2 linked regions of the Homo sapiens genome follow. The protein of the gene in region 1 purifies or fractionates together with the protein of each later gene. This does not show direct contact. Each region holds a gene or a part of one and is shown on either strand. Other genes may lie near its edges.

Region 1 (2,615 bases):
ACACAGCACTGATCCCACAGCCGCCCCTGTGCTGGACTCTGCTCAAAGAAGACCCGTCTCATCCCGCCTTGGGGGTCTGTGGTTGGGATGTGACTCATTCCAGGCCTCGTTGCTGAAAGCAGCAAGGCCGTGATGCTATCTCCAGGCCCAGGCTGCTGACCACATGTCATCTAATCACTCCTCTGACCCTCCCAGCAAAGCCAAGGACGCGAGAAGAAACTAAAGCACAGAGACGCAAGGCTAAGGCTGCTCCGGAGGCCACACAGCGAAGAGTGGGCTTCACCCAGACCCCAGGTGCAAGTCTGGGCTTTTCTTTGAGCCTTAGCTGACCCCCTCAGCTGCCACCACTTCTCAGCTGCGCCCCCAGCATCCTCCTGGCAACAGTCCCCACCCCGGGACGGCACCCACCCTGCAGGATGTCCTTCATGACGGTCTGCAGCACCACCTCCTCGTACGTGTTTTCCACCAGGATGAACCTGGCAAAGTCCTCGAAGATCAGCTCCTGGAACCGGGGCAGCTCCTGCCCGGGTGGGGCGGCAGAGATGAGAGGTCAGGGCCAAGGGTAGAGGGAGGCCTGTGGGCTCCATCCCCCAACTTAGGGCCCAAACGGCTGGAGCAGGTGGGGGCTGCTCACCGACTTGCAGGTAGGGGCCAGCTTCTTGAGCAGGAACGGGATGCTGATCTGCAGCAGCGCCTCCCGGAAGAACCTCTTCCGCACAGAGCTGCTGTCGTAGTCGTATTTCTGCAGGGAACAAGGGGGTCGGGGGTCTGCAGGTCAGTGGGCTCCATTGGCCCTGAGGGTAGGACGAGGCCAGTGGTCTGACCCAAGCCTCCGAGTCCTCATCCGCACAAGAGGACCATGGCGCCTCCTTGCAGGGACAGCAATCCTGGTGGTGGCCGGGGATGAGGCTCGGGGCTCGGCCTCGCCTAGGACGGTCCGGGGCAGGGCGTGGGGCCGCTCACCTTCAGCACCCGCTCCAGGACCCGCTGGATGGACTTGCACAGCTCCTCCTTGGTGGGCCCCTTCCCCAGCTCCTGGTGCAGGAGGGTCTCGAACGTATACACGGCATTGTCCATTTGCTGCAGGGCATACCGCGGACATGTGAAGCCCCCAGGGTGACCACAGCCCCTTCCTGGGTGCCGCTGAGGGGTCCTCATCCTCAACCAGCCCCCCACCCCGAGGCCTGCCAGGGAGGAATGGCAAGCGGTCTATGCCCACTCACAGCTCTGCACGCTGGAGCAAGTCCCTGCCTCAAGGCAACAGGAAATATGGGAAGGGGCCTGGGGGCGCAAGGAGAGCTTCCTGGAGGAAGGGGTCTCTAAGCTGAGACCTGGGAAGTGAGTCAGAATTAGCCAGGTGGGCAGAGGCACAGATGTTCCAAGCAGAGGAGGAGAGAGCGTGCCAGGCAAGCGTGGCTATGGCATGACGGGACGGAGCAGAAGGGACCCCCTGGGCGAGGGGGCCTGTGGAAGGCAGTGGACAGGGTGTGGGGTGGGGGTCGTAGCCTCGGGTCTACCTCCCGCATGTGGATCTGGGCTCGCTGCTTGAACACGGACGTGCTGGACACATCAAATCGCTGCTGCAGCCCGTCCAGTCGCAGCGACTCCATCTTCTCATAGCAGCTCTGCATCTTCAGGGGGTGGTACGCCAGCCGGGACAGCTTCTCCATGTACTGCAGGGGCCGGGGCCGCGGGGGCTGAGCAGGGCCGCCCTGTGGCCAGGCAGCACCCCCCACACACTTTGCCTGGGTCCTCGAAGTCCAGGCCCTGGGGCTGGCGCCTGCTACCAGGGATGGCCACCTGGTGCTCATGGCCACAAAGGTAAACCCAGGAGGGCCCAGGACAGAAGCATGAGGCTCTGAAGGCATGGAGGGCGCAGTCCAGTGGCACAGCGCTGTGGAGAGGCAGCCTCGGTGCCGGCAGAAGGCACTCATCCCTTCTGAGGTGCTGGGTGACCTTGGGCAAGTCATTCACCCTCTCTGAGCCTCAGTTTCCTCAGCTTCAAAATTGGGAGAGAGCTTTCCTGCTCTCCAAGGTCCTCTCCAGGTCTCAGATTCTGGGATTATTATGGTCTGTGGACTCCCCATTTCAGAGTATAAAGGAGGAAACTAAGATACAGGATAAATTCAATCTGACAACTATGCGGGCTCCGGGCAGCCAGCCCAAGATGGAGACTGTGGAAGGACGTTCACCCCGAGAGCCAGATAACTGAGGTCAAGTAAGGGCAACGGCTGTCTCCATTTGGAGGGCGCGTGACTTGTGAATTCTTCCTTATCAATCTCATTACTCCACCTGAAGCCCGCCCTTCCCTCTCCCCTCCTCTCCTTCCCTCCTTCCCTCCTCTCCTTCCCTCCTTCCCTCCTCTCCTTCCCTCCTTCCCTCTCCCCTCCTCTCCTTCCCTCCTTCCCTCTCTTCTGTTAAATTCTTTTCTATTTTAGCACCACTCTTGGTTTCTAAAGGCTGGTGGCCGGGAGCTAATGTTCCCTCTTTCCTCAAACTGCAGGCCCCACGAGGACTCCAACAGCCCTGGCCTCACAGCCTCTGCCCCTAGTCCCCAGCAGCCCCTCCCCGTCTACAGGGACGGCCTTGGAGGGGAACGGCTGCCCGGAGTCACG
Region 2 (4,360 bases), on another chromosome or scaffold:
TGTGGTGGTGCATGCCTGTAATTCCAGCTACTCAGGAGGCTGAGGTAGGAGAAATGCTTGAACCCAGGAGGTGGAGGTTGTGGTGAGCTGAGATTGCGTCATTGCACTACAGCCTGGGCAACAAGAGCAAAACTCCATTTCGGAAAAAAAAAAAAAATACAAAAAATTAGCTGGGCATAGTGGCAGGCACCTGTAATCCCAGCTACTCGGGAGGCTGAGGCAGGAGAATCACTTGAACCTGGGAGGTGGAGGTTGCAGTGAGCGGAGATTGCACCACTGCACTCCAGCCTGGGCGACAGAGACTCTGTCTCAAAAAAAAAAAAATATTTACATAGCACTTATACTGTATTAGATATTTTAAGAAATCTAGAGATGATTTAAAGTATGTGGGAGAATGTGTATAGGTTATATGCAAATACTACACCAGTTATATAAGGGACTTGAACATCCTCAGATTTGGGTATTGGAAGAGCTCTGGAAGCATCATCCTCAGATACCAAGCTACAACTATAAGTGGTTTTTAGTTAATTCTTGTTTGTTTTAATAAACAAAGTACAACCACCCTTTCCACCAAAAAGTAAGCAACCATGCCTGATTCTGCAGATCCCACTAATAAAGACACTTACTGCCAAGAATTTCTGTAACTGCTTCTCGAGTCACTAGTGTTTCTGTTTCCAAATACACAACAAATGCTGCCAAGAAGACCAAGCGCTGCAACACAAACCTCCAGTGCTCATGAAATCTGCATGAAAATAAGCACATTTAGCCTCCAAGGTTAGGGACCTTCAGAAAGATGGGTTTAATACAGCCATGTTCAAACGGTTTAGAAATGCGATCATTTTTCAAATAAAATCTTACACAAACCCCCAATATATAAAGAGAAATATGACATTTAGCATTAATTTTACAAGTTCGAATTTATAACAATTAAGTTTAATCAGTGACAAATATGGTCTAATTTTGATGAGTATGAAAATTTACGCCGGGTGCGATGGCTCACGCCTGTAATCCCAGCACTTTGAGAAGCAGAGGCAGGTTGATCAATCTGAGGTAAGGAGTTCAAGACCAGCCTGGCCAACATGGCAAAACCCCCTCTCTACTAAAAATACAAAAATTAGCCAGGCGTGGTGGCAGGCGCCCATAGTCCCAGCTACTCGGGAGGCTGAGGCAGGAGAACTGCTTGAACCTGGGAGGCAGAGGTTGCAGTGCGCAAGATCACACCACTGCACTCCACCCTGAACGACAGAGCGACACTCCGTCTCAAAAAAAAAAAAAAAAAGACAGAAAAAAGAAAACTGAAGATTACAGATGACAAGAGCAATTGTGCCTTCTAAATTTAATCAGTAAGAACAGTGATACTGCTCTGAAAAAAATAAAAATTTGTAACTGATGATTGAAGACAACTGCAGTTATGTATCATCCTCAACGTATTCCTCCATTTTGATTTGAGTGCAGAATACCAAGAAAATTCTGATTCACAAAATTACCATTTGCAATCACTAAACAAATGCACTTAAAATAGAATACTGAGCTAGAAGCCTGAAAAAAGGAAATTTTACAACCTGTGGATATTTATGCAATGCCTCCTGATTCTCAAATGTGGCAATACATTCAAAAAAAAGGTCTCAACATAATGCAGGTCACACAAACCCTTCTGAAGGCCAAATCCAGCCAGAGGGCAGCCTGTGTGTGACCTCCAGAGAAGATGGTCTCTAAAGACCCCACCTGTTCTACTGTCCTACCTCTCTCTGTGCTTCAGCTATTACAACAGCAGTCCCTGACCTTTTCAACACCAGGGACTGGTTTCATGGAAGACAATTTTTCCACAGAAGGGGGGCGGATGGTTTCAGGATGAAACTGTTCCACTTCAGATCATCAGGTATTAGATTCTCATAAGGAGCATGCAACCTAGATCCCTCGCATGCACAGTCCACAATAGGGTTCGCACTACTATGAGAATCGAATGCTGCCACCAATCTGACAGGAGGTGGAGCTCAGGCAGTACTGCAAGTGATGGGAAGCGGCTGTAAATACAGATGAAGCTTCACTCGCTCACCTACCGCTCACCTCCTTCTGTGCATCCCAGTTCCTAACAGGCCACAGACCAGTACCAGTCCATGGCCTGGGGGTTGGGAACCCCTGCCTTACAGCAAGGATCAGCAAATGTTTTCTGTAAAGGGCCAAGTAGTAAATATTTTAGGCTTTGTGGGACGCTTTCACTGTTACATATTCTTATCTGGGATTTTCTTTTTTTTAACAACTCTTGAAAAAACAAAAGCAATTCTTAGCTCCCAGAGGCAGCAGCCACTAGTGGTTTGTCAACCTCTCCCTTAAAAGAATATTCTCATAAGGTTATACTACCCACCCCCTGAAAATACTCATCCTATTTACTGCTGATATATACGTCTTAAAAGAACATCTTTTTCAGTAAGAAAATTAAAATAAGTAGAAACTTTTGATTCAGGTGCAGTTTTTCCCAGTTTAACACCTATGAAACCAGGAGACATTTCACAATCCATGTTTCACAAGTTGTTTTTTTTTTTTAGATGGAGTCTCACTCTGTTGCCCAGGCTGGAGTGCAATGGCACAATCTTGGCTCACTGCAACCTCCGCCTGCCTGGTTCAAGCGATTCTCCTGCCTCAGCCTCTGAAGTGGCTGGGGTTACAGGGATAAGCCACCACACCTGGCTAATTTTCGTATTTTTAGTAGAGACGGGGTTTCGCCATGCTAGCCAGGCTGTCTCAAACTCCTGACCTCAGGTGATCTGCCCACCTAGGCCTCCCAAAGTGCTAGGATTACAGGTGTGAGCCACCACGCCTGGCCCATGTTTCACATTTATGACTGGCAAAATTTTCCTTCCCTACTGGTACATAAAATAATGGTGTATCTTAAAATCAACAGTGTTGATTTTAATAAGAAAACATGGCATAAAATATTAGCTAATTACATCACTTGGCAGTGAAATTCAAGCTTCAAAGTAAAACTCGACTCCATATATATACTGCCACCTAATCTCATTATTTCACTAACTATAGTTCATCCAATTTCACAAGAAACTTGAATATAGCAAAAAGATATTCTCACTTTTGACCCTCATACCACATTTTCTTTTTAATTGCTTTTTCACTGCAAAAGTAATACATGTTCCTTAAGATTTAGACAGTAAAAAGAAGAAAAAAATAAAATCACCAATTTTTGTCATGACCATTATTAGTTCGGTTTTTTCTCTTTTTGTTACTTCTACACAGGATGTTTGCCTAGTTGTAAGCAATCATTTGGTACACATAATTTTTCTCCTTTTTTTTACTTAACATTATAAAATAATGCTATTTTTCTTACAAACCTGTAATACTGTTCAGCAGGAAATTTGGTCTTCAAAGATGTTAGATGTGTTTTTACTGTACCAAAATGTTCTCGAGCTTTCAAACACCTCTTTGGAACTAGTCACAAAAGATAACCAAATGAAAAACTTAACCAAATTTCAAATACAGTTCTTGCTTAATAATCTAAGTAATCTATCTGGAAATTAATCAACAAAAAAACCTCACAACTAACGTACACATCTGTGCTTTTCAACCTGGCTTTCAAAATATCATCCCCAGTTTCCCTACTAATTAGCTATACTGAAAAATAAACAACTTGCTAAAAGGGAATATATTAGGAGACACACTGGTAATTGGTTTGGTTGTCATAAATAACGTCATCCTTAAGGAGATGCACACCAGCTGCTATTCCTGTTCACTCCTCAGAGGATGCCTAAAATTGGATTGCTTCTTCCTCCCATATTTGGCAGAAAAAAGCCTTTACCAAGTATTCACAATCAGGATGACCAACTCCGTATCATTAAGAAAAATCACTTGCCTCTGGCACGTGTAAATGCATTATTATATCATTCTTGTATCTGAAAATATACTTCAGCTCCTTTAGCTGTGCTGGCAATACCTTACAATGAAGGTTCCATGTCTAAACTTGACATATTTTATTTTCATTCAAGAGGCTGATTATAAACACATTAATTTGAGAACATTTTATACTGTTAATCTCATATTAAAAGGTATTCAATCACTGAAAGGCTGGATTCAAATACACACAGGTGCATATACACACATACACACATACACACACACACACACAAAGGGCCAAATAAAAGTCACTAGATAACACAAAAGAGTTACAAACCCTTGGGCCAGGTGCAGTGGCTCACGCCTGTAATCCCAGCACTTTGAGAGGCCCAGCCAGGCGGATCATCTGAGGTCAGGAGTGCAAGACCAGCCTGGCCAACAAAGTGAAACCCCATCTCTAATAAAAATACCAAAAAAAAAAAAAGTAGCTGGGCGTGATGGCGGGCACCTGTAACAC

The links.
Region 2: the proteins of NIBAN2 (region 1) and TSN fractionate together in Homo sapiens (co-fractionation; one large-scale study listed by BioGRID). This does not show direct contact.

The regions. Positions count from the first base shown.
Region 1 is NC_000009.12:127,507,459-127,510,073, forward strand, and holds part of NIBAN2 (protein Niban 2), read right to left. Parts: intron 1,674-2,615; coding exon 1,518-1,673; intron 1,081-1,517; coding exon 964-1,080; intron 743-963; coding exon 635-742; intron 521-634; coding exon 409-520; intron 1-408. UniProt on the Homo sapiens protein: May play a role in apoptosis suppression. May promote melanoma cell invasion in vitro.
Region 2 is NC_000002.12:121,757,791-121,762,150, reverse strand, and holds part of TSN (translin), read right to left. Parts: intron 3,442-4,360; coding exon 3,345-3,441; intron 743-3,344; coding exon 627-742; intron 1-626. UniProt on the Homo sapiens protein: DNA-binding protein that specifically recognizes consensus sequences at the breakpoint junctions in chromosomal translocations, mostly involving immunoglobulin (Ig)/T-cell receptor gene segments.